Regions from separate parts of the Homo sapiens genome. Here region 2 is linked to region 1. Evidence: fine-mapped expression QTL. A gene starts in region 1. The other region holds a variant in brackets. All regions are shown on one strand. Distances are between the middles of the regions.

Region 1 (5,490 bases):
CTCACGCCTGTAATCTCAACACTCTGGGAGGTTGAGGTGGGAGGATTACTTGAACCCAGGAGTTCAAGACCAGTCTGGGCAACTTGGCAAAACTGTGTTTCTACAAAAAATAAAAATATTAGCTGGGCAGCCAGGCGCAGTGGCTCATGCCTGCAATCCCAGCACTTTGGGAGGCTGAGGTGGATGGATCACCTGAGAGGTCAGGAGTTTGAGACCACCCTGGCCAACATGGTGAAAACCTGTCTCTTTAAAAATACAAAAAAATGAGCCAGCCATGGTGGCTCACGCCTGTAATCCCAGCACTTTGAGAGGCCAAGGCAGGTGGATCACCTGAGGTCAGGAGTTCAAGACCAACCTGGCCAACATTGTGAAACCCCGTCTCTACTAAAAATACAAAAAATTAGCTGGGCATGGTGGCAGGCGCTTATAATTCCAGCTACTAAGGAGGCTGAGGCCGGAGAATCGCTTGAACCCGGGAGGCGGAGGTTGCAGTGAGTCAAGATCGCACCATTGCACTCCAGCCTGGGCAACAAGAGCGAAACTATGTCTCAAATACATACATACATACAAAAAATTAGCCGGGTGTGGTTGCCGCACACCTGTAATCCCAGCTACGCGGGAGGCTGAAGCAGGAGAATCGCTGGAACCCGGGAGGCAGAGGTTGCAGTGAGCCAAGATCACACCATTGCACTCTATCCTGGGTGACGGAGTGAGACTCTGCCTCAAAAAAAAAAAAAAAAAAAAAAAAACTTAACCATTGCAGCCATTTTTAGGTGTACAGTTCAGTGGCATTAAGTACATTCACACTGTTGTGCAACCATCCCCACTATTTGCAGGATGTCTTCGTCATCCCAAACAGAAACTCTGGGTGTTTTCAATCTGCTGATGATTGCTACAGAGGAATTCCAGGGGACATCTGTTGCGCACCTACTGTGCTCACGCTGGGGCCTCTGGGATGGACAGGATTCTGCCAAGGCAGACATCTGGGTCAAGACAGTCCTGCACAGTTGTTCAGGTTGTGGCCAAGGTTGCGTTTGCAGATTTGCCATGTAAAAATACAGGATGCTCAGTTACATTTGAATTTCAGATTAATAGCAAAAAAAACTTTTTGGTATAATTCTGAAATATTTCATGGGACATATTTATACTAAAACGTCATGCACTGTTGATTTGAAATTCAAATGTAATTGGGCCTCCTCTATTTCGTCTGGCAAGCGTAGACAAAAGAATCCAGTCCAGGCCAGGCGCAGTGGCTCAAGCCTGTAATCCCAGCACTTTGGGAGGCCGAGGCGGGCGGATCACGAGGTCAGGAGATCGAGACCATCCTGGCTAACACGGTGAAACCCCGTCTCTACTAAAAATACAAAAAATTAGCTGGGCGTGGTGGCGGGTGCCTGTAGTCCCAGCTACTCGGGAGGCTGAGGCAGGAGAATGGCGTGAACCTGGGAGGCGGAGCTTGCAGTGAGCCGAGATCGCGCCACAGCACTCCAGCCTGGGCGACAGAGCCAGACTCTGTCTCAAAAAAAAAAAAAAGAATCCAGTCCATAGTCCCCTGAGCCATGTGCCCTGGGGTGCAGCTGGGTCCTTCAGGAGAAAAATGCTCTATTTCTGGCACTGGGACCGAGCCTGATGTGGGTTTTTTGTTGGTTTTTGTTGTTGTTATTGTTTTTGAGACAAGGTCTCGCTCCACCACACCCGGCTAATTTTTGTATTTTTAGTAGAGACGGGGTTTCACTACGTTGGCCAGGCTGGTCTTGAACTCCTGACCTCAAGTGAGCCGCCTGCCTCGGCCTCCCAAAGTGCTGGGATTACAGGTGGGAGCCACCGCCCTGGCCCTGGGCCTGATGTTGATGACCTCCTACTATGTGCACCTGCAGCTCTCCTGCATAGGCCTCAGCCGTCCTGCATGAGGACACTGGGAGGCAGGTGCTCCCTATCAACCCCGTGTTACAGTTGAACAAACTGAGCCCCAGAAAAGAAAACGTATTTGCCCAGGTCACACGGTGAAGAAGTGAGGGATTCGAAGCCCAGGTCCATCTGAAGCCAGAGTCACCCAGAGGAGAAAGAGTTGGAATTGAGAACTCAAGGAATGCTTGGAAGTGATCGGGCTCGAGCCCACCTAGGAAGAAACAGAGGCTGGAGACATGAGACTGTGTTGCTATTTCCTCTCATCAACCCTTGGGCCCTATTGAGGCCCTACCACAAGCCTGGCCCTGCAGCCCAGTGACTAGGAGAAATTAGACACAAGATAATAATAACAGCAATGATCTTTTTTTTTTTTCTGAGACGGAGTCTTGCTCTTTCGCCCAGGCTGGACTGCAGTGGCGCGATCTCGGCTCAATGCAAGCTCCACCTCCCAGGTTCACGCCATTCTCCTGCCTCAGCCTCCCGAGTAGCTAGGACTACAGGCGCCTGCCACCACGCCTGGCTAATTTTTCATATTTTTAGTAGAGATGGGGTTTCACCGTGTTAGCCAAGATGGTCTCAATCTCCTGACCTCGTGATCCGCCTGCCTCGGCCTCCCAAAGTGTTGGGGTTACAGGCATGAGCCACCGCGCCTGGCCAACAGCAATGATCTTTGAGCACCTATATTGCCAGTCTCCACGGTAAGAGCTTTCTTCATTTTTTGTTTTGTTTTGTTTCAAGACAGAGTCTTGCTCTGTCACCCAGGCTGGAGTGCAGTGGTGTGATCGCGGCTCACTGCAGCCTTCACTTCCCGGGTTCAAGCCATTCTCCTGCCTCAGCCTCCCAAGTAGCTGGGATTACAGGCACGCATCACTACTTCTGGCTAATTTTTGTATTTTTAGTAGGGACAGGGTTTTTCACCATGTTGGCCAGGTTGGTCTCAAACTCCTGGCCTCATATGATCTGCCCACCTCGGCCTCCCAAAGTGCTGGGATTACAGGCGTGAGCCACTGCGCCTTTCTTTGTATTTGTTCAAGTAATATACTGAAATATGTACTGTGCCTCCCACTTTATGGAGGAGGAAACTGAGGCCAGCAAATGAGGCTGTCATGGGAGGTGGAGACAGGATTTGAACCTGCCTCAGTGCAGGAGGCTCAAGAGCCTCTGTCTTCTCTCAGGGCACTGTGTGGGAGGGTGAGAAGGAGGGAGGCCCACAGAGGCATGACCTCTGATTGCCACTGTCACCTGGGCCCTGCTCTCTGAAGTCTCTGCCAAGCGGGGAGGTGGCCGGGGGAGGGCCCTGCTCTGTGCAGCCTCCCCTCCCCCGGCCCGCAGAGTTGAGCACAGAGGGACAGAGGCACGGAACCCCCAGAAATGTCCCTCCTCAGAAACAGGCTCCAGGCCCTGCCTGCCCTGTGCCTCTGCGTGCTGGTCCTGGCCTGCATTGGGGGTGAGAAGAAGTGGGTGGAGGGATGTGGGGCCCACACCTGGTGGGTGTGAGTGTGGCTGTGTGTCCTGTGGCTCTGTAGCCACGTGAGACATGAGTACGGAGTGTGTGCGTTTCATGGCGTGCGTATGCATGTGCGTGTCGGGGAGTGTGTGTGTCGGTGGCTGAGAGTGAAGTGTGAATGTCACATTGGTACAAACTGGGATCATCTGTGTGTGTGCACGTGCGTGCGTGGAAGTGGGAGTATGCAGTCGTGGTAAAAAAGTGCATGTCTGTGTGCATATGTGTATTTGTGTGCACCTGTCTCTCTGTGGGGTATGTGTGTGCAAAATATTTGAGTGTGTGGACATGTGTGAGGGGGTGAGTGTGTGCTGGTGTGTACGTCTGTGTTTTGCATATGCATTTTTTTTTTTTTTTTTGAGACGGAGTCTCACTCTGTCACCCAGGCTGGAGTGCAGTGGTAGCAGTGGTGCGATCTTGGCTCACTGCATCATCCGCCTACCCGTTTCAAGGGATTCTCCTGCCTCAGTCTTCAGAGTATTTGGGACTACAGACACACGCCACCATGCCTGGCTAATTTTTTTTTTTTGAGACGGAGTCTCGCTCTGTTACCCAGGCTGGAGTGCAGTGGCGTGATCTTGGCTCACTGCAACGTCCGCCTCCCGGGTTCACGCCATTCTCCTGCCTCAGCCTCCCGAGTAGCTGGGACTACAGGAGCCCACCACCACGCCTGGCTAATTTTTTGTATTTTTACTAGAGACGGGGTTTCGCCGTGTTAGCCAGGATGGTCTCCATATCCTGACCTCGTGATCCGCCTGCCTCGGCCTTCCAAAGTGCTAGGATTATAGGCGTGAGCCACTGCGCCTGGCCAATGCCTGGCTAATTTTTTTATATTTTTGGTAGAGACAGGGTTTTGCCATGTTGCCCAGGCTGGTCTTGAAATCCTGACCTCAGGTGATCCGCCCGCCTTGGCCTCCCAAAGTGCTGGGATTACAGGCATGAGCCACCACGCCCGGCCATGTACTTTATGTTAAAATGGGATCATATTCTAGATCAGCATTATCCAGTAGAAATTTAAATTTTTAATACAGGGCCAGGCACGGTGGCTCATGCCTGTAATCCCAGCACTTTCGGAGGCCGAGGCGGGTGGATCGCAAGGTCAGGAGATTTGAGATCATCCTGGCTAACAGATGGGTAAAAACCCATCTCTACTAAAAATACAAAAAATTAGCCATGCATGGTGGCATGCGCCTGTAGTCCCAGCTACTCGGGAGGCTGAGGCCGGAGAATCACTTGAACCCGGGAGGCAGAGGTTGCAGTGAGCCGAGATCGCGCCACTGCATTCCAACCTGGGTGACAGAGCGAGACTCCGTCTGAAAAAAAAAAAAAATTTAACACGTATGTAGACAATGTGCAAGGCACCATTCCATGTGCATCGTATGTAGTAACTCTTAATTCTCACGATAACCCTGAGGTAGATATTATTACCCCGTTCTACAAAAGGAGAAACAGTCCTGGGGAGACAGGATAAGTCACCGGCCAAGGCACACAGCTAGCTACATGTGGCCCCCGCGTGACGGCTGGTCTCTGTAGGCGAGGCTTTGTCCAGATGCGTGGGTAGAAGGTCTGGCCCGGAAAGAGGAACTGACAGCAAGGCTAAGCCAATGTCTGCCCCTGGGGGCAGAAAGTCACCTCCTGCTCTCCCTCCACTGTCCACAGAGGTAGCTCAGACAGGGTGGGGGTCACAGGAGAACGAAGGGAGAAGGGGGTAGTTCCTGGGCAGCAAAATCAGGTGGTGAAGGGAGGCATCAGAGGATGGCAATTAGAGAGGCCATTAGAGGGGAACCACAGGCAGACAGGGTGACAGGAGGGACTACTGACACAAGGTGAAGAGATGGCCCAGCCGGACGGGGTGGCTCACATCTGTAATCCCAGCATTTTGGGAGCCCGAGGTGGGTGGATCACTTGAGGTCAGGAGTTCGAGGCCCCAACATGGCAAAACCCCATCTCTTCTAAAAATACAAAAATTAGCCGGGCATGATGGCAGATGCCTGTAATCCCTGCTACTCGGGAGGCTGAGGCAGGAAAATTGCCTGAATCCAGGAGGTGGAGGTTGCAATGAGACGAGATCATGACAC
Region 2 (5,258 bases), 79 kb after region 1:
GGCGTGAACCCAGGAGGTGGAGCGTGCAGTGAGCTGAGATCGTGCCACTGCACCCCAGCCTGGCCAACAGAGCGAGACTCCATCTCAAAAAAGTAAAATAAAATAAAAATACAAAAATTAGCCAGGCATGGTGGCAGGCACCTGTAATCTTAGCTACTTAGAAGGTAGAGACGAGAATGGCTTGAACCTGGGAGGCAGGGGTTGCAGTGAGCTGAGATCATGCCATTGCACTCCAGCCTGGGCAACAGAGCAAGACTCCATCTCAAAAAAATAAATAAATAAGAATTTAAACCTACAGAAAAGTTAAAAAATAATACACTGAGTATCTTTGAAAGGTGAGTGCCTGTTATTTATTTATTTTTTTTTAATTTTTTTTGAGACAGAGTTTCGCTCTTGTTGCCCAGGCTGTAGTGCAATGGCGCGATCTCGGCTCACTGCAACTTGTGCCTCCCAGGTTCAAGCGATTCTCCTGCCTCAGCCTCCCGAGTAGCTGGGATTACAGACATGTGCCACCACGCCCTGCTAATTTTGTATTTTTAGTAGAGACGGGGTTTCTCCATGTCGGTCAGGCTGGTCTCGAATTCCTGACCTCAGGTGATCCACCCGCCAGATTACAGGCGTGAGCCACCGCGCTCGGCTGAAAGCTAGTGCCTTTCATCTATATTCACCAGTTGACATTTTGCCACATCTGCTGTGTCTCTCATTCTGTCTCCGCACAGCCAAACATACACACACACAGATACATACATTTTTGTTTTGTTTTGAGACAGGGTCTTGCTCTATTGCCCAGGCTGGAATACAGTGACGCCATCACAGCTCACTGAAGCCCGGATCTCCAGGGTTCAAGCAGTTTTCCCATCTTAGCCTCCTGAGTACCTGGGACTACAGGTGCATTCCACCACACCTGGCTGATTTTTGTATTTTTTGTAGAGATGGGGTCTGCACATGTTGCCCAGGCTGGTCTTGAACTCCTGTGCTGAAGCAACCCACCTTCCCTGGCCTCCAAAAAGTGCTGGGATTACAGGTGTGAGCCACCACGCCTGGCCGACACATTGTTTTTTTGATGACTCATTTACAAATGAATTGTAGCCATCATGCTACTTCACCCCTAATTCCTTCAGGATGTATCTCCTAATCATAAGCTCCTCTGTAGCTACAATCTCATTAATCACCTCTAGGAAAATTAGTAATCCCATCAAATCATGTAATATACAGTCCATATTTCAATTTCCCAATTGTTTCCAAAATGTGTTTTATAGTTGTTTCTTCCTCCTTAATCCAGGATTTAACCAAGGATCATGTTGCATTTGGTTGTCCTATCTCATTAGTCTCTCTCCTTCTCTCTTTATTTATGTATTTATGTATTTATTTATTTTTTGAGAAGGAGTCTTGCTTTGTCACCCAGGCTGGAGTGCAATGGCACGATCTGGGCCCACCGCAACCTCCATCTCCAGGGTTCAAGTGATTCTCCTGCCTCAGCCTCCCGAGTAGCTGGGACTACAGGCATGTGCCACCACGTGCGGCTAATTTTGTATTTTTAGTAGAGACGGTGTTTCTCCATGTTGGTCAGCCTGGTCTCAAACTCCCGACCTCAGTTGATCCACCCACCTCGGCCTCCTCAAACTCCCAACCTCAGGTGATCCACCCACCTCGGCCTCCTCAAACTCCCGACCTCAGGTGATCCCCCACCTCGGCCTCCCAAAGCGTCGGGATTACAGGCGTGAGCCACTGTGCGCAGCCCTTCTCTCCTTTTTTAAAAAAATTAAGATATAATTGATCATATATAGTTAAGATTAAAGCTCTGAATTTTTACATATAATGTATACATATGTAGTTTACACAGTGTAACTACCTACCACCCAGGCACCCAGGTCACAATACATGATTTATTCTCTTTCTCTCTCTCTCTTTTTTTTTTTTTCTTTTTTGAGACAGGGACTTTGTCACCCAGGCTGGAGTGCAGTGACGCAATCTGGGCTCATTGCAACTTCCACGTCTCAGGCTTAAGTGATCCTCCCACCTCAGCTTCCAGAGTAGCTGGGATTATAGATGCCTGTCACCACACCTGGCTAATTTTTGTATTTTTTATAGAGACGGGGTTGCCCAGGCTGGTCTTGAACTCCTGGTCTCAAGCAGTCCTCCCACCTCAACCTCCCAAAGTACTGGGATTACAGGCGTGAGCCACTGTGCCTGGCCCATCATTTGTTGTCTTTTAACCCCAAATGTGGCACCCATCTTTTTTTTTTTTTTTTTTTTTTGAGACGGAGTCT[C/T]GCTCTGTCGCCCAGGCTGGAGTGCAGTGGCGCGATCTTGGCTCACTGCAAGCTCCGCCTCCCGGGTTCACGCCATTCTTCTGCCTCAGCCTCCCAAGTAGCTGGGACTACAGGTGCCCGCCACCACGCCCAGCTAATTTTTTGTATTTTTAGTAGAGATGGGGTTTCACCATGTTAGCCAGGATGGTCTCGATCTCCTGACCTCATGATCTGCCCGTCTCAGCCTCCCAAAGTGCTGGGATTACAGGCGTGAGCCACCGCACCCGGCCATGGCACCCATCTTTATAGTCTTCCATGACACTGAAATTTTCACGTGGTGGCTCATGCCTGTCATCCCAGCGCTTTAGGAGGCCAAGGCAGGCAGATCGCTTGAGTTCAGGAGTTTGAGACCAGCTTGGGCAATGTAGCGAAACTCCGTCTCTACTGAAAACACAAAAATTAGCCAGGCATGGTAGTGTGCGCCTGTAGTCCCAGCTACTCAGGAGGCTGCGGCAGGAGAATCCCTTGAGCCCGGAGGCGGAGGTTGCAGTGAGCTGAGATCTCCCGCCACCGCACTCTAGCTTAGGTGATACAGCGAGACCCTGTCACAAAAAAATTTAAAAAAGGCCAGGCACGGTGACTCACGCCTGTAATCCCAGCACTTTGGGAGGCCGAGGCGGGCGGATCACGAGGTCAGGAGATCGAGACCATCCTGGCGAACACGGTGAAACCCCATCTCTACTAAAGATAGAAAAAAATTAGCCGGGCATGGTGGTGGGCACTTGTAGTCTCAGCTACTCGGGAGGCTGAGGCAGGAGAATGGCGTGAACCCGCAGGCAGAGCTTGCAGTGAGCGGATCCAGCCTGGGCGACAGAGCGAGACTCCATCTCAAAAAAAAAAAAAAAAAAAGCCTGAGTGGCCTAAAAAAGCAGCCTGTAGGGCAGATATTATATGAGGCCCCCCAGTTCATCAGTTGGAAGCTTCTGGTTTAGGATATCAAAGTGGCCTTTTTTTTTTTTTTTTTTTTTGAGACCGTCATATTCTGTCACCCAGGCTGGAGTGCAGTGTCAAGAACTCGGCTCACTGCATCCTCCGCCTCCCAGGTTCAGGCGATTCTCCTGCCTCAGCCTCCCGAGCAGGTGGGATTACAGGCATGCGCCACCATGCCGGGCTAATTTTTGTATTTTCAGTAGAGACTGGGTTTCACCATGTTAGCCAGGCTGGTCTGGAACTCCCGACCTCAGGTGATCCGCCCACCTCGGCCTTCCAACGTGCTGGGATTGCAGGCGTGAGCCACCTCGCCCGGCCCAAAGTGGTCTTAAGCAAACACATTCCATCATCCTGGTCGCGGGAGAAGGTTGGGGAGCTCCCAACAGAGGACCCTAGTGGGGAGAGGATTGGGGAGCTGCCAAGGAAGGCCCCAAGGAGTTTGGATGGACGCAGGCATCGGTGATGGGACCCCCAAAGAGGACTTCTCTTCCTGCAGCTCCGGGATTGTGGAGGGCTGCGGGAGGTGGAGGTGACTGCCTGCCTGGTGTGGAAGGACTGGCCTCACCGAGTCCACCCCCACAGCCTCGTGGGGAAAGACTGCACCGACGGCATCTGCAGGGTGCGGCTCCGGCCTCACGTCAGCCCCCGGCACAGGTACCCACCCCCTGACCTCCGACCTCTCATCCTTGATCATGGAGATTCTAAGCGACTGGAGGCCACCCATGAAACTTTAGAGCAGAGGGCAGCTTGGGTAAACCCTCCCCACTGCCTCTTCTAGGTGGGAGACAGGCCTGGGGACAGTGGAGGGCCTCACTTAGGCCTGGAGCCTTGCCACACACATATTCACATACATTTTATCCCTATTTTGTAGAGGAAGAAACTGAGGCTCAGAGAGGGTAAGGAGCACAGATAATTGATGACAGAGCTGGGATTTGACTGCAGACCTGACTTAACTGCAAGGTCTGTTCTTTCTCTTACTTTACAATTCATCTTTTTTTTTTTTTTTTTGGGACGGAGTTTTGCTCTTGTTGCCCAAGCTGGAGTGCAATGGTTCGATCTCAGCTCACTCCAACCTCCACCTCCCGGATTCAAGTGATTCTCCTGCCCCAGACTCCCGAGTAGCTGAGATTACAGGCATGCGACACTACACCCAGCGAATTTTTTGGATTTTTAGTAGAAATGGGGTTTCACCATGTTGACCAGGCTGGTCTCGAACTGCTGACCTTAGGTGATCCTCCCAGCTCGGCCTCCCAAAGTGCTGGGATTACAGGCATGAGCCACCGTGCCGGCCTTTTCTTTCTTTTTAAAACAGAAGCACTGTATAACTTTTATTTTGCATATGTCCACAAATGCTTACACAACATACAGTGGCTACATCTAAAACTTTGAGCATTTTTTCATAGTGCAAAGAGACAGAAAGGTAGTGACACACTTCACTGTGTTACACTGACTTTGGGTAGAGCCCTAAAGGCAGCACGCACTTCAGAGGTAGGGCTGAGTATTGCTCACACTCAGGTCTGGAAGATTTAATTTTAGAAATTTTTAAACTTAGTGAAAATATAAGTTCCGAGAGCAGAGATCTTGTCTCTTACATTCCCTGCTGTATTCCGAGTGTCTGGCATAGTAACTGGCACATAGTAGGTGCTCAGGAAATATTTGTGGAATGAATGAATACTGCCATGTTATGCAATTTACAGACCCATCAGTAATGGGTGAGAGCACCTGATTCTCCACAACCTCACCAGCACCGAGTATTATGAAACATTTTGATTTTTGCTATTTTGATGAGTGCCCCAAAACAAAGGCATCTTCATTGGTGTTTAATTTGCAGTTTTCTTTCCTTCCTTCCTTCCTTCCTTCCTTCCTTCCTTCCTTCCGTCCTTCTTTCTTTCTTTCTTTCAGACAGAGTCTCGCTCTGTCGCCCAGGCTGGAATGCAGTGGCGCGATCTCGGCTCACTGCAAGCTCTGCCTCCTGGGTTCAAGTGATTCTCCTGCCTCAGCCTCGCAAGTAGCTGGGAC

What was found. PIP is the estimated chance that this variant, and not a neighbour inherited with it, causes the effect.
Region 2: its variant is the best candidate, but not a certain one, in a credible set for the expression of APOC4-APOC2 in monocytes after LPS (Kim-Hellmuth 2017, PIP 0.57).

Annotation. Positions count from the first base shown.
Region 1 is chr19:44,938,999-44,944,488 of GRCh38, forward strand. APOC4-APOC2 (APOC4-APOC2 readthrough (NMD candidate)) reads left to right here and starts at 3,240. Exons shown (of 6, transcript NR_037932.1): 1 at 3,240-3,355. It overlaps APOC4 (apolipoprotein C4), which reads left to right and starts at 3,239. Exons shown (of 3, transcript NM_001646.3): 1 at 3,239-3,355. The coding sequence starts at 3,280.
Region 2 is chr19:45,018,318-45,023,575 of GRCh38, forward strand. It overlaps RELB (RELB proto-oncogene, NF-kB subunit), which reads left to right. Exons shown (of 12, transcript NM_006509.4): 5 at 3,736-3,893. Among named protein-coding and RNA genes, the nearest start is that of CLASRP, 18 kb to the right of the region's middle. RefSeq lists an enhancer at 1,814-2,108. The variant C/T (reference allele first, on the strand shown) is at 2,271.